Homo sapiens: one gene and its partners. The protein of the gene in region 4 interacts with the protein of the main gene of each other region in a pairwise test. Each region holds a gene or a part of one and is shown on either strand. Other genes may lie near its edges. The genes, in order: ZFP64, ZNF317, RBM12B, RBM10, TBC1D22B, ZNF473 and CBLL1.

Region 1 (3,500 bases), on a different chromosome or scaffold from region 4:
GTATCCTTAACAAGCTCCCAGGGGATCTTGGTCCATAGGCAGGTCTGGGAACTGCCAGTCAATGGAAACTTGAAGCACAATAGGAGGAATTGCACCCAGAAAACCAATCTAATAAGTGTAAAAAAGAAAAGAAAGCAGAATTCTGCTTGTTTAGTTGGCACAGAGGCAGGAACCATCAGGAGGAGCAGCTGAGTCAGACGGAGACAACGCAAGCTGCAGATCTCACCATCCTTTCGCCACCTGTTTATTAGACTCTACATTAATAAAAGCGATCGCTCATTGAACCCAATTTCTCCATCTCAGGCCCTTTATGTGGATTATCGCAGAATTCTCACAATAACGCAATGATGATTAGGTATTATAACCTCTTTTTACAGATGGGGACTGTTTAGTGAGAGGGAGAGTAAATGATTTGCTCACAGCCTAGGGCTGTTAGGTGGTGGATTGGGATGCGAGTCCAGCAGTCTATCTCTGAGCTTGTGGCTCCCTTCAGCACTGTGCAGGGGAGGGCTCTGTGTGCCAGGCACAAACAGGACTCCAGGACTGGCCTGAGCATTCAGGACAGTCAACAAAACTCCGGCATGGCAAGATCCAATGGTCGCAGGGCCGTGTAAATGCTAAGAGGAGGGTGAACTTCTTTGAACAAAGAAATAGAAGTGCTGGGTGCAGTGGCTCATGCCTGTAATCCCAGCACTTTGGGAGCCCAAGATGGGAGGATCATTTCAGCCCAGGAGTTCAAGACCAGCCTGTGCAACATAGCAAAACCCTATCTCTATAAATAATTTAAAAATTGGCTGGATATGGTGGCGCAGGCCTGTAGTCCCAGCTACTTGGGAGGCTGAGGTGGGAGGATTGCTTGAGCACAGAAGATCAAGGCTGCAGTGAGCCATGACTGCACTACTGAACTCCAGCCTGAGCAACAGAGCAAGACTCTGTCTCAAAAAACAAAACAAAGAAACAAGCAAAAAAACTAGGAGGACAAAAAAGGGAGCCGCTATTTGGTTGTGAGGTCAGCTTTACTGATGCATATGAGATGTGAGCAGTGTTCACACCCAAGAAATAATAAGTGCCTTGGTGCTGGGATCCAGTGGTGAACAGGAGAGGGGCTTACAGGTCAGTGATGGAGATACACCTTAAAGTCATTCCTCTATTAATCATTTAAATATGGGACATGACCTGATCTGGGAAAAGAGTGAGACGTGCAGGGAAGGGGTCTTTGAGAAAATGCCTTTAAGTCCAGCTCTGACATAAGAATTAAGGCAGTTCCAGGCAGAAGGAACAATGCAGGCAAGGTCTGAGCCTGGAGGAAATGTGGCTCATTCCAGAAACAGAAAGGAGTTCATCATGGCTGCTGCAATATAGAGGGGAGAGAAGGGGATTGTCCCCAGGAAGAATGCAGACCCTTTTTTGTGAAGATTGTCATGAAACTTAAGGCCTTGAGGTTGAGTTGGCATCAGCCAGGCCAAGGTGGGAAAGGTATTTCAGGCAAAGGAAAAAGCATCCACGAAGGCTCAGAGCCCAGAAAGAAGCAATGGCCCCAAGTAAAAAGTGTGGGCCTGGAAGCCTCCCACACGCAGGGCATCCATTTTTATATGGCTCCCATCCACTGTGAGAGGTTCTGGGATTTTGGTTTTCGAGGACAAGAAAGGAAACACTGTCCTCATGAAGAAGACCACTACGATAAGGGGCAAAACACATGTCCCAGGACTGTCCTGAAGTTCCGATGGGACCTTGGCCATGTCCCTTCCCCAAAGGCAACTTTGCTTGGTCCTGGTGCAAAATAATTAGGTCCTACCAGGCCCACTTTTAAGGGTTTTCTGGTTTTCACCTTTTCTTGGTGACTTCCTTTAAGATGGGAATGAAGATAAACTCAGGAGACAGTGGGAAGATCTCAACATACTTTTGTTAAGGTTTGTGAGGGGATCAGTTTTATTGTATTTCAAAATGTCTACTGTTTAAAAAACTCAGTAGAAACATTATTTTGGATGCATTAAGAAAAAAACCCACAAAACTTTGCTTATTGCCAAAAAAATTCAAACATCACCCTAGTAGATACCTCATAAGGGGAAAGTTGGTTTCCTTTTTATTTTTTGAAATGGAATCTCACTCACTCTGTTGCCCAGTGGGGAGTGCAGTGGCACTCTCACTGCAGCCTCTGCCTCCTGGGTTTAAGAGATTCTCGTGCCTTGGCCTCCAAAGTAGCACGGACTATAGGCGAGTGACACCATGCCTGGCCAATTTTTGTATTTTTACTAGAGATGAGTTTCACCATGTTGGCCAGGCTGGTCTTGAAATCCTGACCTCAAGTGATCCGCCTCGGTCTCCCAAAGTGCTGGGACTACAGGTGTGAGCCACTGCGCCTGGCCCTGACGTCTGATGCTCCTCACTCTTCAGCTCCAGACTATTGGGTAAACATTCTCTGAGAATAAGCTAGAAGAAACTTATGGACTCAGTCAGGCTCAGAGATGTATTGTTTGGCAACAAAGTTTTATATTTGGAAAATTTCACATTTTCAGCTTCTCTGAAAAACTGAAATATCTAACTGGCTGGATCCAAAGAACAGCTGCACTTTTGGATGAGGCATGTGTGATTTCTCTACTTCACCACAGTCCCCACCACTCTCTAACACCTCCCCCAAAGATAACTTCTCTCATTTACATTACCGCCCCATCCCTGTTCTAGAAACTTCCCTGGAATATAAGACCATATAATATGTAGGCATATGTATTTTTTTTATACTTACCTTGAGAATCTTTCTGTGACTACACACAGATCCAACTTTCCTCCTTTCCAAAGCTAAGTCATATTCCATTGTTGGAATCTTTGATATTTATTTGTTTAAATCCCTCTTTTTTATTTTATTTAAGAAACAGGGTCTCATTTGTCACCCAGGCTGGAGTGCAGTGGTACGATCATAGCTCACTGCAGCCTCAAACTCCTGGGCTCAGGCGAGCCTCCTGCCTTAGCCTCCTGAGCAGCTAGGACTACAAGTGTGTGCTATCACGCCTGGCTAATTTTTAAAATTTAATGTAGAGGTGGGGTCTTGCTATGTTGACGAGGCTGGTCTTGAACTCCTGGCCTCAAGTGATCCTCCAGCCTTGCCCTCACAAAGGGCTGGGATTACAGGTGTGAGCCACTGCACCTGGCCATACCTAACTCTCTCTTGACGTATACATACAAAGGCTCCACTTTCTCTATAGTACATGCTGTAAATGAATATCCTTGTACATTTGTTTATGAAGTTTTTTATTTTTATTTTTTTGAGACAGAGTCTCACTCTGTTGCCCAGGCTGGAGTGCAGTGGCACGATCTCAGCTCACTGCAACCTCTGCCTCCCAGGTCCAAGCAATTCTCCTGCCTTAGCCTTCCGAGTAGCTGGGATTACAGGCACGTGACACCACGCTGGGCTAGTTTTCGTATTTTTCATAGAGAAGGTGTTTTGCCATATTGGCAAGGCTGGTCATGAACTCCTCACTTCAGGTGATCCACCCGCCTCGGCC
Region 2 (3,500 bases), on a different chromosome or scaffold from region 4:
GAGAATTATGGTCCTGAGAAAGCTCATAATGGAACAGTTTTGGGCAACATTTGTTTTGGACCACAAACTTGATGGAGGAGGCAGATCTTCTAAAACTGAGGAGCAGGGCTGGAGCAAGGGTGAGGTTTGTGAGTGCAGAGCCAGGGAGCCACTCGCTCTGAGCCAACCTTGTGCTTGTCTGACACCAGAAGTGCTTCCTTAAATACCACACTCTTGTCTAGCAGCCTTGGTTGCCTCATCCCAGTCCTGGCCCTGGTGAGGAGAAAAACAGATCCCAATGAGAATAGAGTAAGATGTGTAGAAATAGAAAAATAGAACTGCTTTCACCATGCTGTAAAGAAAATTAAAAGAGAAATTAAGCAACCCCAACAGCTCTGAAAAATTAACCTGTCCGTTCTAACTCATCCATGGTGACAGCATTCCAATGACACTGGTTTTTTTTTTTTTTTTTTTTTTTTTTTGAGATGGAGTCTCGCTCTGTCGCCCAGGCTGGAGTGCAGTGGCACAGTCTCAGCTCACTGCAAGCTCTGCCTCCTGGGTTTCACACCATTCTCCTGCCTCAGCCTCCTGAGTAGCTGGGACTACAGGCGCCCGCCACCGCGCCCGGCTAATTTTTTGTATTTTTAGTAGAGATGGGGTTTCACCATTCACAGGATGGTCTCAATCTCCTGACCTCATGATCCGCCTGCCTCAGCCTCCCAAAGTGCTGGGATTACAGGCGTGAGCCACCACGCCCGGCTGATCCTGGTTTTGTTTCATGTATCATGTAGAAACGGGGCAGAACGTCTCTGAGTTCATAGATCCTACAGCTGTTCTAGACACCCTGCTCCACATCCTGCTGGGGTCGCTTAGATGCTGAAATCTTCCTGCTTTATTTGTATTCATGGCCACCAGTTCTTTGAGACTCTCTGATACAGTTTGGATGTGTATCCGCCCCCTCCCCCCCTCCAAATCTCATATGGAAATGTAATTCCCAATATTGGAGGTGGGGCCTGGTGGGGGGCGATTGGATCAGGGGGGCAGATTTCTCATGAATGGCTTAGCACCATCCCCCTTGGCACTGTCCTCGTGATGGCGGGTGAGTTCTCCTGAGATCCGGTCATTTACACGTGTGTGGCACCTCCTCCCAACCCTGCTGTCTTGCTCCTGCTTCACCATATGCTTTGCCTGCTTCCCTTTTGCCTTCTGCTATGATTGGAAGCTTCCTGAGGCCTCCCCAGAAGCAGATAGCACTGTGCTTCCTGTAGAGCCTACAGAACTGTGAGCCAATTAAACCTCTTTTCTTATAAATTACCCAGTCTCAGGTATTTCTTTATAGCAGTGCGAGAATGGACTAATACACCATCACCCAGCACTGACAACCCCTGAAAGTGATAGAATCACTCAGGTGAGAACTTGGCCAGAAGCTCCACTCTGAGCTCTGGTTTGCATCGTTGCAAAACATCGACAAGGTTCCACAGACTGAATTGATGTGGGTGCGCTCTCTAAGCTCCAGCCCTCTGGACACTTTGTCCTTCATGGAGGGTGGTGGTGGATGTTGGCCCCAGGGTGTTGGGCTAAGCCATAGGGCTGTGTCCTAGTACCTGGATTACTGTTTAATTTCACAGGACCTTCTGAGGAGATCCCAGACCCCCTACATTCCATAGGCCCCTCCTTTATGGTCTCCCAAGGTCTGGGTGGCTGTCTCAGTATGAAGGCAAATGTAGATCAGCTTGCTCATCATCCATTCATTCTTTCATTCCCTACTTATTGTCTTATTTATATCAGGCACTGGAATGGTGAATGAAATATCATCAAAGTAAAAAGTCTCTACTCACCTGGAATGTATTTTCTAGTTGGGCATACAGGAAATCAAAACAAGTAAACTACATAGTGTGCATGGAGGAGACAGCAGAGAGATAATAATGCTTACCCGGTGTTCTGTGTCCTGTCCTACATTTCCCAGGATCCTTGGAGCTGGCAGGGGCATGTGACTAGTTCTGGCCAATGGGCTGCAAGTGCTTCAGGGTCAAAATATAGACGACAGAATGCATAGTTGTCCAGCTTCCTGCTCATCATCTATGACCAACATGGCCAAGGGTATCAGTTGGTTCAGAGACAAGTGGCATCCTTGAACAACAGGAAAACTTTTGACATCAGCCTGGGTTGAACAAGTGACATGAGCAAGGCGTAAACTTTCCATTTTATTGAGTCATTGAGATTTGGGTTTGTCTGTTTTTGCAGTAAAAAATAGAGCCTAATCTTACACAGAACATTACTTGGAAATTAGTGCTTTAGGGAAAAAGAAAAGGAGTGGAGAATTGGGATTGAAAGAAGCAGGGGTTTGCATTTTAAAAAGTGGCCAAGGCGGGTGGATCAGCTGAGGTCAGGAGCTCAGGACCAGCCTGGCCAACATGGTGAAACCCTGTCTCTACTAAAAGTACAAAAATTAGCCGGACACAGTGGCACACCTATAGTCCCAGCTACTTGGGAGCCTGAGGCGGGAGAATCACTTGAACCCGGGAGGCGCAGGTTGCAGTGAGCTGAGATCACACTACTGCACTCCAGCCTGGGTGACAGAGCGAGACTCCATCTCAAAAGAAAAGAAAAGAGTGGCCAGTGAATGCCAGATCAGGACAGGTAAAGTTGAATAAAGATCTGAAGGATGAGAGGGGGCCAGGCACACTGAGAATGTGGGGGAAACATTTCAAGCAGAGGAGCAGCAGGTGCACAGACCCTGAGGTGGGAGCATGGCTGGCGGGGCCTGATGCACAGCAGTGAGGCTTCTGTGGCTTGGGTGAGGGACCAGTGGCAGAGCGAGTTGTGGGTGAGGCGGCAGGGACCTGGGCCCTTGGTCTGAGTGAGATGGGACACCATCAGAGGATCTTGAACAGAGGAGCGGTGTGATCTTCATTTTACCCATAAAGTTACGGCTGTCATGGAAGCTAAGGGAAGTCAGGGACAGCAGCTGGGAGACCAGTTAGGAAGCAGTTGGAATGTTCTAGAAGAGAAGCGATGCCTTATGCCAAGGCAGTAGCAGTGTAGGTGGTGAGAAGCAACCAGATTTTTGTATTAAGTTTTAAAGTTAAGGCTGGCAGGATTTGCTGGTGATGCAGGTGTGGTTTATGGAAAAGAAAGAGGAGAGTTGAAGGTGATGACGAGCAAGGCTTTTGACTTGAGCCCCTGGGAGGCTGGAGCTGCCATCAACGTGGGGAGGCTGGTGGCAGCACAGTTGTAGGTGTTTAATGTGGGATCCTGTTGGCTGTTGCAGTAGGGATACTAAGTAGCCACCTGGCTGCCACTCACTCTGAGTCATTCTGGGTGGGGCAGGTGCCAGGGAGCGGAGAGTGGCACCCACTATAAATGAACAATTCTGTTAAGTAATTGTGAAATCGTCAGTGGTCATTTTATTTTAATGATAATGGCATTTTAGAGTGAATGTTTGTTTACTGAGCCTATAGAGTTCCATACATAACCCAGTGTTAAAGTCTTCAGTTTCCAGATGAGAAAACTGAGTTTTG
Region 3 (3,500 bases), on a different chromosome or scaffold from region 4:
TCCTCCTCCAGTGGCCGCCTCCAGTCCTCCTCAAGGGGCCTCCTCCAGTCCTCCTCCCTAGGGTGCCTGAAGTCATCCTCCGGAGGGCGCCTGAAATCTTCCTCCCAAGGGCGCCTGAAGTCCTCCTCAGAAGGCCGCCTGAAGTCTTCCTCCCTAGGTCGCCTGAAGTCCTCTGGGGAGTGCCTGAAGTCCTCCGGGGGGAACCTAAAGTCCTCTGAGGAGTGTCGGAAGTCTTCTGGAGGGTGCCTGTCAGGCTGCCGGAAATCCCTCTGGGGATGCTTGAAGTTATCCAGTTGCCTCAAGTCCTCTAGCTGATGTCTAAAGTTTTCAAAAGCACCAACTGAGTATATTGGTGGGTCTTTTGAGTCAAATAAATGGGAATGGTCACCTCGCTCACGTGACTGTGAGCGAGCTTGCATTTTTTCACTGGACATCACAGAAAAATTTACACCAAACTCCTGTATTTGTGCCTCAGATATAAGTCTTAATAACACCTCTGTCCCTAGGAATCTTCGTCGGTTTAAACGTTCAGCTTTCATGGCCTGTTCTTCTGATTTAAATTTCACTAATGCTTCTCCCAGACCAACACCTTTGTCATCATAAAGCAAGTAAATGTCATCCTCAGCAAGAAGAAAGTCTGCAAAGAACTTCTGCACTTCAACTTTTGTAACATCAAATGGAAAATTTCTTATATAGATGCACAGTTTCTGGCCAGAGTTACCTTCTTGAGAGTATTTTTGTGAAACATGTCCGGGCCTATCTCTCTCTAGTGACCCTGATCTCTTCTTTTCATAACGTGCAATGAACTTCAGCATTTGTTTTCTAGAAATTGGATCAATATGAACTGGACGATATTGTAAAACAGTCTTATGTAAACTCAGAGCGGTATTATAGTCTTTCAGAGTCTTGAACATCACAAAGGCATATCTTGTTCTATTTTCATCTTTATATAAAAACCTAATCTGTTCATCAGTCAGATCAGTACCTCTAAAGAAATTTCTTAAATCTCTTTCGTCAATACTGAGGGACAGATTTTTTAAGTGAACATAAAATCCAAGAGGGGAACGAGAACGTGTTCTTCTGGGAGATTTTGAATGAGACCGTTTTCGAAAATGTCTATCATTAATTCCTCTTGGTGGAGAATGTTCTTCAGATCTCCTAAGAACGTCACCCTCCTTAACTGCATTACCACCAAACTCAATCCACTGTTGTTCTGATCCTTGCATTACTTCTATAAATCTTGAACCCATAAAACTTCTATGACATTTAAGACCTCCTGAAGCATCAACACATGAAGCAAATTTTACTATGGCATCACCATTATTTCGGCCATCATGATGTTTTAAGAAAATTACTCCATCCACGCACAAACCAGAGAAAAAGACACGTACATCATCTTCATTTACTAGGTAAGGCAAACCTCGTAGAAACAAGTAAGGATTCTCGGCCTTCAATGGCCTTGTCTTTCTTGGCCTTAAATTACCATGTCCTGTACCATTAGTATGAAACCCAGCATCTTGATTAATTGAAGAGCCATATCCAGAATTACTTGCTTCTTCCTTAACAGACTCAATAAAATTAGACAGGCTGTCAACCCCTGATGTCCCAGATCCTGGACGCCCTCTTCCTACACGATCAGTTCTTTTCATTTCTATAGTCTTCTGCATTTCTGCCTTGCTACTAAGAAAGAGCTCTACAGATGAATCCTTGATAAACCCTCCTGAACGACTTATGGCACGTCTTGCATCTTCATCTGTTGCAAAAATAATAAAAGCCTCCCCAATTTCCCCTCCAATTATATGCACTCCTCCATCAGGAATAGTCAATCCCGTGAAGAAGTGACGAATATCCACAGGCCCCGCAATAAAAGGAAGCCCCAGTAAACGGATGACTACAGCCATGCTGAGCTCAAACCACAGCAATAATGACCTGCAGACAAAAAGGTACACATAATAGCAAGTCTTATTTTTGAAGTACCTTAGCCCAAACTAAGCTTAATAATTACCTGGTTCCTGCTTTCTTCAACATTTATAAATGAAAACAAGATACAAGTTCACAAAAATACTGATCATATCTAATTATTAAAGAAAACAAGGGATAAACTTTCTCCCATCTAAAAATACAAATAAACCAACTACCTTGAAGAAACATTTCGTATCACCTATTCTATACAATAGGAACATCAAAAATATCAAATCTTCCTTTGTAAGTCTGCCAAATGCTGCTTCACAAGACCAAACTACTTTCAGACTCATTTAGAATCTTATCTTCTACTGAAACATGAGAGCTTTGTAGATTATTTTATCAACTGCAATGAATTTTACATATTTAGAAAAGTCATCTATGGTTAGTATATAATTTCTGCTCATGATAATAAATTGCCTACCACTGGCCAGACACAGAGAACAAAAGCCAGGGCCAGCATGATAGCTCATGCCTGTAATTCCAGGCTTTGCAAGGCCAAGGCAAGAGGATCGCTTGAGGCCAGGAGTTCAAGACCAGCCTTGGCAACAGAGCGAGAGCCCGTCTCTAAAAAGAAAAAATTAGCCGGGCATGGTGGCATGCACCTGTAGTCCCAGCTACTCAGGAGGCTGAGGCAGGAAGACTGCCTGAGCCCAATTTGAAATTTTCAGGATACAATGGGCTGCAACTGTGCCATTGCACTCCAGCCTGGAGGACAGAGTGAGGCCCTGTCTTTTTAAAAAAAAAAGAACAGAAGCCATGGATACCTAGATGTACTATTCTACTTCACATGTTTTTTGTTGAGCCTCAAAGCCTTAAACTCTGGATATCTTACCTTTTTTAAAATTTCTTGGAGACCTGTTAACTCTGTAAAAGCAACTTAACTGTGGAAAGAAAATGAAATATAATTAATCCTTGAACCCTGTAATTTATCTTAAACAACGCCAGAGTAGGATATCCATTTCAGAATTACCTATCAAAAGTGAAGCAGAATAAGGAACCACAATTACGGGTGTTACAAAATGGTCTTTTGTTCCAAGGGGAAATTAATCATCCTTCTGCAAAAAGGAGATACAATATCCAAATAGACATATAAAAATTATTTAAAAATTTGAAACTTGCCGAAAATTTAACAACTGCTCTTGATTGGAAGTAGCACGAAGAAAGGAGTGATGGAAATGTTACATATTTTGAATGCAGCAGTAGTTACATGGGTGTATAAATTTATCAAGGTTTACTGAATTCTATCCTTAGGGTCTATACATTTTGCTGTACACAAGTTTTACATCTACTTCAAAAAACTGTTCTACAAGTAAAATCTCAATACCCAAAGTTCAAAAAAAAAAAAAAAAAAAAAAGAACTTCAATCATTTTGCCACATGAAAATCCAAAAATCTAGTACATATTTATATCCAACTCTCGTGCTGTTCTCCTCCCTTTCAAAACATAAGACCAAATCAAATTAAGGCAACCATTCAAAATTACACAATAAATGAATAAAACAGCAAAGCCTGAAATTCAAAAATCAATTTTTAAAA
Region 4 (3,500 bases):
CGCCAAGCAGAGTTGATCCTGGAGGAAGCAGTGAGGGAAGCGGCAGTTGCAAAGGCACGGAGTGAGTGGGGGCAGAGGAAAGGGAGCAGTGGGGGCATTGAAGGGCAGGGCTGGCAAGAGTGCCAGGGGTGTCCTCTAACATTGGGCCCCTTCCCACAGCCATCATTTTGCGCAACCTGAACCCACACAGCACCATGGATTCCATCCTGGGGGCCCTGGCACCCTACGCGGTGCTGTCCTCCTCCAACGTGCGCGTCATAAAGGACAAGCAGACCCAACTGAACCGCGGCTTTGCCTTCATCCAGCTCTCCACCATCGTGGTGAGGGCGGCACAGTTGGGGGCCGGGCAGCCAGGGTCCCGGCCCCCGGGGTGGAGACGAGGGTCCTTTTCCCCAGCCTCCCACCGCGGCTGCCAGCCTGGAAATCGGGCAATGGAGCCGGGGGCCTCCCCGGGCCTGACCCTTCTGTCCCTGCCTCCCCTCCTCCCACAGGAGGCAGCCCAGCTGCTGCAGATCCTGCAGGCCCTGCACCCACCACTCACTATCGACGGCAAGACCATCAATGTTGAGTTTGCCAAGGGTTCTAAGAGGTCAGGGCCCCACCTGTGTGCCTTCCCACCCTTCCCCTCCCCACCCTCCCACTCCCCCCTACCGCTTGGGGCCTCCTATCTCACTCCCAGTCTCTAACATCCTCCTCAGGGACATGGCCTCCAATGAAGGCAGTCGCATCAGTGCTGCCTCTGTGGCCAGCACTGCCATTGCTGCGGCCCAGTGGGCCATCTCACAGGTACTCAGACCCCTTGTGCCTCCCAGCGTCCTGAGACCTGGGCTTTCTCAACCCTCCTGCACCCTCTCTGAAGCAGGAAGGCTGGCTTGCTATCCATGGATGCAAAACCCTCTCCCAGTAGCTGGCATGGCTATTCTACCTTGCTCCTGGCTCTCTAGACCCCCTGGGACATTCCCCTTCATCATCACCGCAGCTTTCTTCCCAATTGCCTCCCATGCGCTCATGTACGACGCCATTGTGCCTGGCATTCTGTGCTGTTTGGTGGGGTTTTTATTGTCCTGAATAGGTATGATATACACATATCCTTATATGTAATATATACATATATGATATACACGTATCATATGTTCCTGAATAAAAATAACGTATAAGTGGTTGAGAGAAAATTGGGAGAAGAGAATAAAGAAGTAAGAAGATGGTGTCTTCCTTGGCCTGACACCCAACACACACGCCACACACAGCAGAATCAGCAGAATCAGCCCTGGAACATTTTGGCGTTCATCTGTTTTTCTGTCTTGTGTTTGCCACTGGCCTATTTGTTCTCTTGTGGCCAGGCAACCCTCGCTTTCCACTTGTCTTAAGGCTGCATGCTTTGTCTGTCAGGTAGAAATACTAGCCCCACGTGTGGGACAGATGCTTCTAGCAGGTTCCCCACCCCCCACCCCCACACCTTCCTGTTCTAATGAACCCCTCCCACCTGCCCTTCAGGCCTCCCAAGGTGGGGAGGGTACCTGGGCCACCTCCGAGGAGCCGCCGGTCGACTACAGCTACTACCAACAGGATGAGGGCTATGGCAACAGCCAGGGCACAGAGTCTTCCCTCTATGCCCATGGCTACCTCAAGGGCACCAAGGGCCCTGGCATCACTGGAACCAAAGGGGATCCCACTGGAGCAGGTGAGCCCCAGCATCTCTCTCTGCAGCTGTGGTGGGGGCCAGCAGGCATAAAGTCCCCGGCCCCATTATTCACAGGCATTGTCCCTGCCCTGTCCCTCCTTACAGGTCCCGAGGCCTCCCTAGAGCCTGGGGCCGACTCTGTGTCGATGCAGGCTTTCTCTCGCGCCCAGCCTGGTGCTGCTCCTGGCATCTACCAACAATCAGCCGAGGCGAGCAGTAGCCAGGGCACTGCTGCCAACAGCCAGGTGAGTGAGCCCTGTGGGTATGTATCCCGGGGAGGCAGGCAGGCGGCAGGGGTGGCATGGGCAGACACTGAGCCCTGTTCTCCTGTCTGGCCCCATGACCAGTCGTATACCATCATGTCACCCGCTGTGCTCAAATCTGAGCTCCAGAGCCCTACCCATCCTAGTTCTGCTCTCCCACCGGCTACCAGCCCCACTGCCCAGGAATCCTACAGCCAGTACCGTGAGTAGCCACAGCCTGTGGGTAGGGGTGGGGAGTTCTTAATAAAGCAGGGAATAGTGTGACCCCGTTCCCCTCACCCCCTAGCTGTTCCCGACGTCTCTACCTACCAGTACGATGAGACCTCCGGCTACTACTATGACCCCCAGACCGGCCTCTACTATGACCCCAACTCCCAGGTAATAGGGCAGCCCAGGGAGGGATGGGATCGGGTCAGGTCGCGTCAGGAACAGCTAGCCCTGCAGGTTCCCTTCACAAGGTCTTCCCTCACATCCCCTCTTCCCTCCTCCTCCCTCAGTATTACTACAATGCTCAGAGCCAGCAGTACCTGTACTGGGATGGGGAGAGGCGGACCTATGTTCCCGCCCTGGAGCAGTCGGCCGACGGACATAAGGAGACAGGGGCACCCTCGAAGGAGGGCAAAGAGAAGAAGGAGAAGCACAAGACCAAGACAGCTCAACAGGTGAACACCAGGGTCCAGCAGTCACTGGCTGGCTGTGTGGTGTCTTCCAGCAACGGCACTCTGTCAGCTCTTGCCCTCTCCTGCCAAGGGAGATGGCGGGCAGGTGTGGATGTGGGCAGTGACTGCTTAGCAGACCATGCTCTTGCCCCAGCTCTGCTCTTTGCTGAATGGCCTTGAGCCAGAGCAGTCTCCTCAGTGTGTGGCAGGGTTGCCCAACTCCAGGAGGTGGCTTGTGCCATCCGAGTGAGCCCTGTCAGGTGTCTTCTGTCCCATGGTGGGGACCCTCACATTCTGCTGGTGAATATACATGTATGCCAGAGAAATTCTCACAGGCCATAAGGGGGTGGGCAGGAAAAAAGCCCTGCAATGTTTTGTGGGAGTGGGCAGATGGAGGGCACCTCAGTGTCTCTCTGTGGAGAAAGGGTGTGACACTGTGAGCGTAGCGTTTACAAGCAAGCACTAAGTGTTACCTTAGCAACCTGATGAATTCTAAAAATGGTGCTGTGCTGGGGGGAACATGGAAATATAGAATGTGGCATTGTGTCATGCATATAAAGTTATACACAAATAAACATTCCTATGCATTTTTAAATGATAAAATGGAAATGCACAACAAATGTGACAGCGTGGGTGTATGTCAGGGGAAGAGGAGTGTCTTCATCCATTTGCTGCTCCATAACAATACCACAGACTGGGTAATTTATAAGGAAAAGAGATTGATTTGGCTCACAGTTCTGTAGGCAGGGAAGCCCAGTGGTGTTGGCATCTGGTGAGGGCCTTCTTGCCGCATCATAACATGGCAAAGGGCAAGAGAGCATGCATGAGAGCAAGAGAAAATTGGGCCAAACTCCCCCTTTTTATCTGGAACCCACTCAGTGATGGCATTAAATGGAG
Region 5 (3,500 bases), on a different chromosome or scaffold from region 4:
AACTCACTATTTGGCACCAAGAAAAGTTCCAAGTTAGGGTAGAAAGAAAACATTTGATTTTCCTTTAGAGTCACCAAAAAAGTTCTCAAAAGTTGCTGCAGCATCTGGAGTCTCTGTTAGCACCTTTAGAGTCACCAAAAAAGTTCTCAAAAGTTGCTGCAGCATCTGGCGTCTCTGTTACCACCTAAGGTGCCTTGGTGTGTTTGATATAAATGCAGCCCTTTCTCTGGGCAGTGAATGGGGTGTGGCTGGGTTCTGGCCCCTCGCTGCCCTTCAGCTGGGCACCTCAGACAGTGCACACAGGCAGCCACACCCTTGGGGAGGAAACACAATGCTGAACGGTTAGGTTTAAGGCTTCTCAGAATCCATACTCCTCACACAGCCCGTTCTCTTTCTTTTTCAAATGATCTCAGGTGATACATGCCTGAGGAACCCACTCCACAAACAGCAATCACTCCCTCTCCGGCCCATCATCCCCCTCGTTGCCCGGATCTCGGATCAGAACGCTTCTGGGGCCCCCCCAATGACTGTCCGGGAGAAAACCCGCCTAGAAAAATTCCGTCAACTTCTCTCCAGCCAGAACACTGACTTAGGTGAGTCCCTGTGAGCCCAGGCAAGGTAGGAGCTTTGGGTGACTGGAATTCTCAGAGACCTGGAAGCTACTGCTCTTTATTCTTCCTTCTTTTACTTTTCTAGCTTCTCCTGACCTGGTGCCCATTGCAGTGACATGCAGGTATTAAGTCAGACATATGTTACTAGAGATTATGGACCAAATTAGGTGGGACTGGTTTCTGTGGCCTGTAGACCCTAGTGCAACTATTCTGACTTTGGTCTTCCTTATCTCAAGGTGACTCTTACTGAAATCTACACCCACTGGTCTTTCCCTTCCCCTCTAACTTTCATCTCTGAGCTGACAGGACTGCTACTGCAAGGCCGTGTCCTTGGCACTTAGCTGCTCGGGGCTGTTTTGGGCTTTTCACTGTGCTTATGGGTAGCAGGTGGTGGTGGTGGTCTTACATGGATGGAAGGAGACATCAGGCAGTGCTGGTTGCGGTTTGCTTTAGAGCATTTGTGGAGAGTTAACCTAACAAGGCTGTTTTCTATTTACAGATGAACTGAGGAAGTGTAGCTGGCCAGGGGTTCCCAGGGAGGTTCGACCTATAACCTGGAGACTCCTGTCGGTGAGTTCTACCCACTGTGTAGAGAAATGTGAGCCTCACACAGCCCTTCTTGCCTGATGAGGTTAGTCTGGACACATTGGTCTTAACTCCATAGACTTCTCTAGTCCTACTGGATATGACAGAACTATGGGACTATAGTCCTATTTCTGTGCATAAAGAAATACATTCTTGAGAGTTTATTCACACACATGTAGTGGTACACAGACTTGTACCAATAGTCATGGTGTCATGTTCTTAACAGCGAGGAAGAAGAATAGAGTGAGATAGGGTGATCCCAGCACTTGCTTTGAGTAAGCTCCAACGTTCCCTGTGCTTCACTCCTGTTTCAGCCGGAATAACCAAAAGTTGAAACCCACTTTGATCTGTGAAGAGTTGATAAATTGGCCTCCCTTGGAAGCTTTACTAGTCCTGCTTTCACCAAGTACAGAGCACTGTGCCAGCCGCTATGATAGAAACACTTGGGTTTCCTGAGCCTGTAAAATTCATTCATTCATCTAGTGAGGATTTATTGAGAGCCTGCTGTTTGCCAGGCATAGTGCCAGATGCTTTGAGCAGATGCAAAAATGAATAAACCACAGTCCCCACTCTCCAGGCACTCACTGCAGAATGCATTACATAAATGTTTTCAAGAAGAAGGGTCTGTCTCCTGACTGCTCGCCCCCACCTCTACTCTTGCAACCATGCAATCATTGCCTCTGCCACTTCTAATAAGTTTGAATACTATTCAGAGTAGATTTGGTGAGAACGGAAGGGGAACAGAAAATATAAGAATGAGAGTGGGATCTAGACCAGGGATAAGAATGAAAGTTGGCCTGGAGCTTTGGCTAGGCCGGGGGCTGCTGCCAGAAGTTCTGTCTGAGTGTTGTAGCTGTATGTCACAGATTCCATTCAGCTGCTTCCTAAGCTGGTAATTCTGAAAGTTACACTGGAAAAGAATGTAACTGGCACCAACTTACTTGGCACACTGCTGAGATGTGCTGTAGAGGTTGCTATATCCCTGCATTTCTCAGAAGTATGGCCCTGGACACACACAGCCCTCCGAGGCCATGACTTGGGTCCAGCTCCCTCCCACTGACCTACATTCACTGCTGTACTGTGCCAGCTCTGGGAGCTGAGGAGTGCTCACCAGTGGCACAAGCTCCAGCACAGTGCAGGGCCAAGGGAGTAAATAATCCTGGGAAAGCTGGCCTTGCTTCATCTGCTCACATGTGGATCTCATTGAATGAGGAGAGGGCAAAAAATGGGTGGCCAGAACCAAAAAGGGATTTACCCTTGGCAGTTTTCCTTCTTGGTAGTTTCCAAACCACTGCATAGATTAAAATAAAAATTAAGGATTTATCCAACCATTGTCTTTCCCCATCTGACCAGCAGTCTTGTCTATAGGGCTATCTCCCAGCAAACACTGAGAGGAGGAAGTTGACCCTGCAGCGGAAGCGGGAGGAATATTTTGGCTTCATTGAACAGTATTATGACTCTCGAAACGAGGAACATCACCAGGATACCTACAGACAGGTACAGTCACCACCTGCTGCCTCTTTGCTTACCAGTCATATACTTTAGGTATGTCTCATGGTAGTGCTCTCAGGGTACAGGCTTTCCAAGTCTTCAGGCTGTGGTATATTGGTTAGGAGTTAAATTTATCCTCAAAACTGTTTCCCCTCTTTTCATTCAGCAACTCTGATTTTAGCCATTTTAAATAGACAGACTTTTTTGGCACTAGTCAGTGCACTGCTTCTCAAACTTTAATGTACATACAAATCACCTAGGATCTTGATAAGATCTCACCTAGAGATTATGAGAAAATGCAGATTCTGATTTAGCAGGTCTCAGGTAAAGCCTGAAGTTCTGATGTGCTCCCTTGCAATGCTGCTGCTGCTGGTCCACCAACCACACTGTGAGTAGTAAGCGTTATCGAGCATGGAGAGGAAAGACAAGCTTACCTAGCCGTGGTCCAGTCCCTCTGGACTATGACATCAGTATGTCTTCCTGGCAGCTGCACTGCTGTTTTGGCATCTGTGACTGTAGGAGCTGTAGCTTTCAGTAGTCTTGTCAGGGAGTCTTCTGTCATTGCCCATAATGGTCCTCATGGTCTGCGGAAAGGTCTGCTCCCAACATCACATGTGGAGGGAGGAGAAGAGTAGGCCAGGGGTTGCAGAAAGTGGAAGGTGGGCAGCTATTTACAACAAGCCTCAAGAACTGAAGTAGCCTCTGCTGCTGCTGCTGCTGACACAGTCTTTTGCATAGTTAGACTGGGCACTGGGAAATCCCTGAGTTGAAATGGACTATAGTGATGTCTTAGGTAACAGAAGTAAGAACTTT
Region 6 (3,500 bases), on a different chromosome or scaffold from region 4:
GCCTAGAAAACAGAGTCTCCCTCTCAAAAAAAAAAGAGTTTCAAAGGGGACAAACATTCCAACCACAGCACACGGTGAGTAGGTGGTGGGGTGGCACGAGCTCCCATCTGCTACACAATCCCCAGGAGGCTGACCTGTTAGAGGCTCAGCTTTAGAGTCAGACAGGTCCCAGTTCAAATTCTAGTTCTACTATCTATTAACTGTGGGACCTTGTTAGTCCACCTCTCTAATGCTCAGCCTGCCTCTTCTCTAAAATAAGGCTGCTATAGGATGAAGTGAGCTGATGCCTACACAGGGCTCAGCAGAGACCCAACTCACTAAGAAGCTGCTAAATAAGTGGTGCTTGTTGTCTACTTATCTGTCCAATGATGACCAAGCACCTACTACGAGCCAGCCCCTGTGCTAGGTACAGGAAAAAAGGGGGCAGCCAGTTCCTGTCCTTATGAGATTTAACCTGGGTGTGTTACATTGAATTACAATGAAAATGCTTTGTAAAACTCTTAAGAACAGCCAAACACACACACACACACACACACACACACACACACACACGTATGAAAGAACTGGTCACCTCTGAAGGATGACATGACAGAAGGAAACCAATTCCTTATAGTGAAAACTAGCAAATAAAAGGAGAGTCAAGCATTTACCCTACCTGTCCTATATGAACTCTACCGTCGACTAGACAAATAGTAGATAAATTTTTTTTTTTTTGAGATAGGGTCTCACTGTCACCCAGGCTGGAGTGCAGTGGTGCTATCACAGCTCACTGTAGCCTCAACCTTCTTGGGCTCCTGTGATACTCTCACCTCAGCCTCCTGAGTAGCTGGGACTACAGGTGCACACCACCACACCTGGCTAATTTTTAAATTTTTTGTAGAGATGGGGTTTCACCACGTTGCCCAGGCTGATCTTGAACTCCTGAGCTCAAGCAATTTGCCCACCTCAGCCTTCCAAAGTTCTGGGATTACAGGCATGAGCCACCATGCCCAGCCAAAGGATGTCTTGTAAAGTGTTCCAACTAATACATGAAAAGAAATGATAGCGCCATTTTGCAAGCCCTGATGAATGAACAGGTGATAAGGCAGAAAGCATCACTATCTGCCAGGACCACAAACAGGGGGCACAAGAGATTCTTGGTAAAAGGATTGACCATGAGTCTAATCAAGCCTCTGGACCTAGCTGCCAACTGGGAATAAACTCAACTGCACCACAAGGATGGAACCAGAGAAAACAGACTGAGGAATTCTACAGGTCGAACCATGCCAGTTCCTCAAAGGACCGAATAACTGTTCTCTAACTAACAGCTGAGAACAGAAGGGGATGGAGGAGGAACCCAAAGATTAAGAGACACAGAAGACATTAAAAAACAAGAAGGGGCAAGGGATTGTGCATTTGAGTAATAAAGCAAGTGGTAATCATAAAAATCAGGTTACTTATTGGGGATGCGAGAGGGCTATGACAGAGCCCACGAAGGACTTCTGGGGTGGATGGCAAAAAAAATTCTCACTCTTGATCTAGGTGGCGTTCGCCTTCATTAGGTCATGCATTTGATGTGTGTGCATTTCTGCACCTGTGATTTTACAATAAAAAAACTTTTTTAAATTAGGCATATACTAAACAGCATCCTCCTCTTGCTGCTTCGTGGGAAAAGACAGAAGGTGAGAAGGGCAGAAGCAGGGAGTCAAAGGAAAAAGGCCAGTTTGATAATCCAGGTGAGAAATGGTGGCAGCAATGGAGGGGGTGAGAAGTGGTGAGATTCCAGATATTCAGATAACGGTGCTGACAAGGTTTCCTGACGAATAACATGGAGGGTGTGAAAGACAGAAGACCCTGGGATGGCTCTACGTTTTTAGCCTGAACAGCTGGAAGGACAAAGTTGCCACTTACTGAGACATAGGAGAAGCAGCTTTCAGGACAGAGTCTGAGTTTGGTTTGGGACATGTAAAGTTTGAGATATCCTGTAGATTGTCATGGCCGAATAATGCCGCCACCCCACACAAAGATGTCCCTGTCTTAATTCCCAGAACCCATGAATATTATCTTACATGGCGAAAGGGACTTTGCAGCTGTGATTAAGAATCTGGAAATGGGGAGATTATCCTAGATTATCTGGGTTGGTCCTAAATGTCATCACAAGGATCCTAATAAGAGGGAGACAAGGAATCACAGGAGAAAAGAGGTGATGCCATGACAGAAGCAGAGATTAGAGTGATGCGGCCAGGAGCCAATGAATATAGGCAGCCTCCAGAAGCTGGGAGAGGCAAGGACTGAATTCTTCCCTAGGGCCTCCAGAAGGAACGCACCCTGCTGACACCTTGGTTTGAGCCCCGTGAGATCATTTTGGGATTCAGACCTGAAGAACTGTAAAAGAATAAATTTGTGTTGTTTTTAAGCCCACAAGTTTGTATTATTTGTTACAGCAGCAGTAAGACCCTGAAACAGTCGTCCCAGTGGTGATGCTAAGCAGGAATTGGGTGGACGAGCAAGGGGGATCCTGTTTCCGCTTACAACAAATCCTGTCCCTCCTCTGCTCCAAACCCTCCAACGGCCTCCGGATTCACCATATTTAAAGACAGAGACCATACAATGATCTCCAGGGCCCTAAAGATCTGGCCCCAGCTGCCACTCAGGGCTCACCTTCTCCCCCTTTCCTGCTCATCCACTCTGCTCCAGCCACACCAGCTTCCTTGCAGCTCCCTGAACACACCTGCCAGACCCCATCTTAGAGCCAAGATTGTGTCCCTCAGTTCTCTGCTGAAATGCCTCTTCTCCATGAAGCCTTCTCCCACCCCTCTGTATAAAACAGCAAATCTACCCTGGGCCTCCCTATCCCTTTCCTCCATAATCCTTAATACTGCCTGCATTCTATGGGATTTACTTAATGCATTTTACTGTGTGGTATGGGTTGAACTGTAACCCTCTAAAAAGATACAATGAAGTTCTAACCCCCAGTACCTCAGAATTTGCCCTTATTTGGAAATGGGGTCTTTACAGAGGTGATCAAGCTGAGATGAGGTCATCAGGGTGGGTCCTAATCCAAAACGACTGAAGTTGTTATAAAAAGGAGAAATGGGGACACAAAGACAAACACAGGCTGAGGGAAGACAATGTGAAGATACAGGGAGGACATCCTGTGAAGATGAAGGCAGAGATTGAGGTGATGCCTCTCCAGGCCGAGGAACACCAAAGCTGGCCACCATCTGCCAGAACACAGGGGAGAGGCCTGGCTCACAGCCTCAGAAGGATCCAGCCCTGCCAACACCCTGATCTTAGACTTCTGGCCTCCAAGACTGGGAGACCACCAATTTCTGTTGTTTTCAGCCACCCAGTGTGTGGTACTTTGTTACAGCAGCCCTAGCAAGCTCATACACTGTCACCCGCAATAAAGTAAGCTTCATGAGGGCAGGAACCACCTAAACCGTTTCCCTAGTCCAGACTTACAACAAAGCCCACTCATGACAGGCACAGAGTAAATACTTGTTGAATGAGGCAAAGCA
Region 7 (3,500 bases), on a different chromosome or scaffold from region 4:
ATGTTAAGAACCCTAATGATGAGGCTGATGTTACTTGTTGTAGTCCTTGCAATGTCTTCTACTTACTGTTTTCCACTTAGTATTATTTGCTCAACAAACAGTTATCACTCAATAATACCATACTAGTTTGAATTCCATGATTGTAAGTAATCTACCCGTTGGTTTTTTTCTTGCTGGGTTTTTTGGCAAATGGATGCAGAAGGTACAATTGTTTGAGAAAACTGGATAAATTCTAGGCCTTGGGAAGAATGAGGTCTCTTCTTGAAACATACCGTTTGATATTAGGAGTTCTGAAGTTGACAGAAATGCCTATCTTAATGGCTAACAGACAACAAAGTAGGGAAGATTAAAGGTTTGCGTAGAATAACTGTAACTTCTAATTGTGGACTTTTGCTATGTTTTATGTAACAGTCAAATTTTAAAAACAAGCATATTTTTGAAAATTACATAATTTTTTGTATTCTCTTTTAGTAAATCACATTTCTTTCCCTTCTAATTTAGCTGTAGTGATCCTGTGCAGCGAATTGAGCAGTGTACACGAGGTTCTCTCTTCATGTGTAGCATTGTTCAAGGGTGCAAGAGAACATATTTGTCTCAGAGAGACTTACAGGCTCATATCAACCATCGCCATATGAGAGCTGGAAAACCTGTTACCCGTGCTTCACTTGAAAATGTTCATCCTCCTATTGCCCCACCACCAACTGAAATCCCTGAGCGTTTTATAATGCCACCAGACAAGCACCATATGAGCCATATTCCGCCAAAGCAGCACATCATGATGCCACCACCTCCTTTGCAACATGTGCCACATGAGCACTATAATCAGCCACATGAGGATATTCGTGCTCCTCCAGCAGAATTGTCCATGGCTCCACCTCCACCTCGATCGGTCAGTCAGGAAACCTTTCGTATTTCAACAAGAAAACACAGCAATTTAATAACCGTCCCTATTCAGGATGACTCAAATTCAGGTGCTAGAGAACCACCACCTCCTGCCCCAGCACCTGCTCACCATCATCCTGAATATCAGGGTCAACCAGTGGTATCGCACCCTCATCATATTATGCCTCCACAGCAACATTATGCACCACCCCCACCTCCTCCACCACCAATAAGCCATCCAATGCCACATCCTCCCCAGGCTGCAGGTACTCCTCACTTGGTATATAGCCAAGCTCCACCTCCACCAATGACCTCTGCTCCACCACCAATAACCCCTCCCCCTGGACATATTATTGCCCAGATGCCACCTTATATGAATCATCCTCCTCCAGGACCTCCCCCACCTCAACATGGTGGTCCACCTGTAACTGCACCCCCTCCTCACCATTATAATCCTAACTCATTACCCCAGTTCACTGAAGATCAAGGAACTCTGAGCCCTCCATTTACACAACCAGGGGGAATGAGTCCTGGTATATGGCCTGCACCAAGAGGGCCACCACCACCTCCACGATTGCAGGGTCCGCCTTCTCAAACCCCACTTCCTGGACCACATCATCCAGATCAGACAAGATATAGACCGTATTACCAATGATAATAGTATTTTGAATGGAAGATATGAGGGGGAAAAAAACTTATGTGTAGTCAATCTTTTAAGCTTTGACTGTTTTGGGAAGGAAGAGTACCTCTTATCGAGGTAGTATAAAACACATAGGGTCTTGTTTCTTAAAATGGTTTTAAATCTTGACCTTAAGATTGATTTCAAGTACCATACTGTAGTACAGATAAGTGGCTCAGTTGAGCACAGCTATATTTTAACATCTCTTTGTTCCCCTAGTTTAGTAAATTGACCCAGAGGTGACCATTTGTAAAAAATTTGAAAAAATTTTTCATTGTTTTACTTCAAAAGTATTGTTTTGTTAAACCCAACGTTTAGTTTTTCTTGTGATACATTTTGTTAACCTGTGTAAAAGGATTAAATTTCAATATGGTTGTAAAAATGCTATTTTTATGTGAATTTAAGTGCAGCCACATACTGTTTTTTAAACCATATGTTTTACCACTAATTTCCCAAAGTTATAATAAAATCCTGAAAGTAAAAATCTACTAGAATTTGCTGTAAGGCAGACTGTTAAATGATAGAGAATTATTTCACATTTTAGGCACTGAAATGTTGAGGTTTCGAGGTATAGTAAGTATACAATGCACTTCACTTGGATGCCTTTTCATTTTTAGGCAGCCTCAGGAGCACCAAAATACATTGGAATTCTAGTACTAAGATATATTTGTTCGTAATGTTAAAAGACATTACTAATTATTTGGAAAGAGATGGCCAAAATAATCAACTCTACAGGCTTCAAGCTGGTGGGGGAATGCTGTTACTCATTAATGCTTTTTTACTGAATGGTCGGAATCACATATGCACCACACATACTGATCTTAAGTAACATTATTTTATAGAACTGTTTAAATGGGTTTAAATGGTGTTCTTTAGATGAAATGTGTTCTGTTTTGTTCATTGTCTTAAACTGAATAGGGCTGAATAGGCTTTATGTAATTCTTCATTTCATGGTAGAGTTTGATGCTGTGTTTAAGTGGGTTCTTGTTTATAGGATTTTCAACTACAGTTTGAATGCCATGGAGGAATTTGAATAATATATTAATGAAGGACATATTCTTGTAATCACAAATTTGCATTTGCTCAGGTTTCATTGCTGTGTGATAGGATTTTTCCTCTAACTTGAAATTTAAAAACTTTTATTTCCTATTCCTTTTGTCGGTAAAGCAGTCTGAATTTGGAACATTTTATCATGGAGTCAACAGTGAAGACTACCAGATAATTTTGTATTGGAGAAGAGGAAATAACAGCTAAATTGTGGATTTCAGTGCTTTACATGGTGCCTTTCGAGTCAGCTTTTACATTATAGGGGCTTGTTATAGTTTAGCTAAGATGACCACTTAACAGTTTATACAGAACTCATATGTATAAATCAACATTCTTAGGATATTATTTATATCCTTTGAATAAATCCCTGTGAAGTTTTTCCTCCCCACTAAAATGGTGCATAATAAAACATGAAATATGTAGTATGCAGATATCATTTATTAGATAGTTTGTAGTGTATACATTTAGAACATACTTCTTTTGACAAAGGGTGATCTGATTGCTAATTTACCATTTTATTCTGTCAGGTACAGGTGAAACAAATTCTCATCTTGAATGATCAGATGCAAAATCATTTCTGAACCCTAGAGCAGAAGTTAGAAATAACAAAATGGCCGTTTCAACCTTGACTGGCCAAAAATAACTAATAAACTTTTTTGTTTTAAGTCAGGCAAGTGATTTTCTACATTTAGCAGTTTGAAAGTCCAGTGTTAATGCAATATTTCTAGTGAGAAATGCTTGTTATTAAAAGCATGGGAGTGATAGTGTGAAATGGTGGTGAGTGCTTCTATCATATTACTGTAGGTACTTGGACTGGTGCAAACTTGATTCCTTTTCATCCCCCTGTTTAGGAGCTATTAAAATATTACTGTTAAAAATCCAAACCATTCTT

The links.
Region 1: the proteins of RBM10 (region 4) and ZFP64 interact in binary tests that used the Homo sapiens proteins (3 or more experiments, as listed by UniProt).
Region 2: the proteins of RBM10 (region 4) and ZNF317 interact in binary tests that used the Homo sapiens proteins (3 or more experiments, as listed by UniProt).
Region 3: the proteins of RBM10 (region 4) and RBM12B interact in a two-hybrid assay, tested with the Homo sapiens proteins (3 studies listed by BioGRID).
Region 5: the proteins of RBM10 (region 4) and TBC1D22B interact in binary tests that used the Homo sapiens proteins (3 or more experiments, as listed by UniProt).
Region 6: the proteins of RBM10 (region 4) and ZNF473 interact in binary tests that used the Homo sapiens proteins (3 or more experiments, as listed by UniProt).
Region 7: the proteins of RBM10 (region 4) and CBLL1 interact in binary tests that used the Homo sapiens proteins (3 or more experiments, as listed by UniProt).

The regions. Positions count from the first base shown.
Region 1 is NC_000020.11:52,181,780-52,185,279, forward strand, and holds part of ZFP64 (zinc finger protein 64), read right to left. Parts: intron 1-3,500. UniProt on the Homo sapiens protein: May be involved in the regulation of mesenchymal cell differentiation through transactivation of NOTCH1 target genes.
Region 2 is NC_000019.10:9,146,897-9,150,396, forward strand, and holds part of ZNF317 (zinc finger protein 317), read left to right. Parts: intron 1-3,500. UniProt on the Homo sapiens protein: May function as a transcription factor. May play an important role in erythroid maturation and lymphoid proliferation.
Region 3 is NC_000008.11:93,734,510-93,738,009, forward strand, and holds part of RBM12B (RNA-binding protein 12B), read right to left. Parts: exon of another isoform or gene 2,847-3,500; 5' UTR 2,798-2,846; exon of another isoform or gene 1,930-2,797; 5' UTR 1,902-1,929; coding exon 1-1,901.
Region 4 is NC_000023.11:47,179,721-47,183,220, forward strand, and holds part of RBM10 (RNA-binding protein 10), read left to right. Parts: exon of another isoform or gene 1-61; intron 62-159; coding exon 160-320; intron 321-491; coding exon 492-589; intron 590-698; coding exon 699-786; intron 787-1,494; coding exon 1,495-1,681; intron 1,682-1,786; coding exon 1,787-1,926; intron 1,927-2,028; coding exon 2,029-2,146; intron 2,147-2,230; coding exon 2,231-2,322; intron 2,323-2,441; coding exon 2,442-2,606; intron 2,607-3,500. UniProt on the Homo sapiens protein: Binds to ssRNA containing the consensus sequence 5'-AGGUAA-3'. May be involved in post-transcriptional processing, most probably in mRNA splicing. Binds to RNA homopolymers, with a preference for poly(G) and poly(U) and little for poly(A).
Region 5 is NC_000006.12:37,281,772-37,285,271, forward strand, and holds part of TBC1D22B (TBC1 domain family member 22B), read left to right. Parts: intron 1-413; coding exon 414-593; intron 594-1,110; coding exon 1,111-1,181; exon of another isoform or gene 1,182-1,242; intron 1,243-2,564; coding exon 2,565-2,693; intron 2,694-3,500. UniProt on the Homo sapiens protein: May act as a GTPase-activating protein for Rab family protein(s).
Region 6 is NC_000019.10:50,032,505-50,036,004, reverse strand, and holds part of ZNF473 (zinc finger protein 473), read right to left. Parts: intron 1-3,500. UniProt on the Homo sapiens protein: Involved in histone 3'-end pre-mRNA processing by associating with U7 snRNP and interacting with SLBP/pre-mRNA complex. Increases histone 3'-end pre-mRNA processing but has no effect on U7 snRNP levels, when overexpressed.
Region 7 is NC_000007.14:107,757,642-107,761,141, forward strand, and holds part of CBLL1 (E3 ubiquitin-protein ligase Hakai), read left to right. Parts: intron 1-501; coding exon 502-1,537; 3' UTR 1,538-3,500. UniProt on the Homo sapiens protein: E3 ubiquitin-protein ligase that mediates ubiquitination of several tyrosine-phosphorylated Src substrates, including CDH1, CTTN and DOK1. Targets CDH1 for endocytosis and degradation.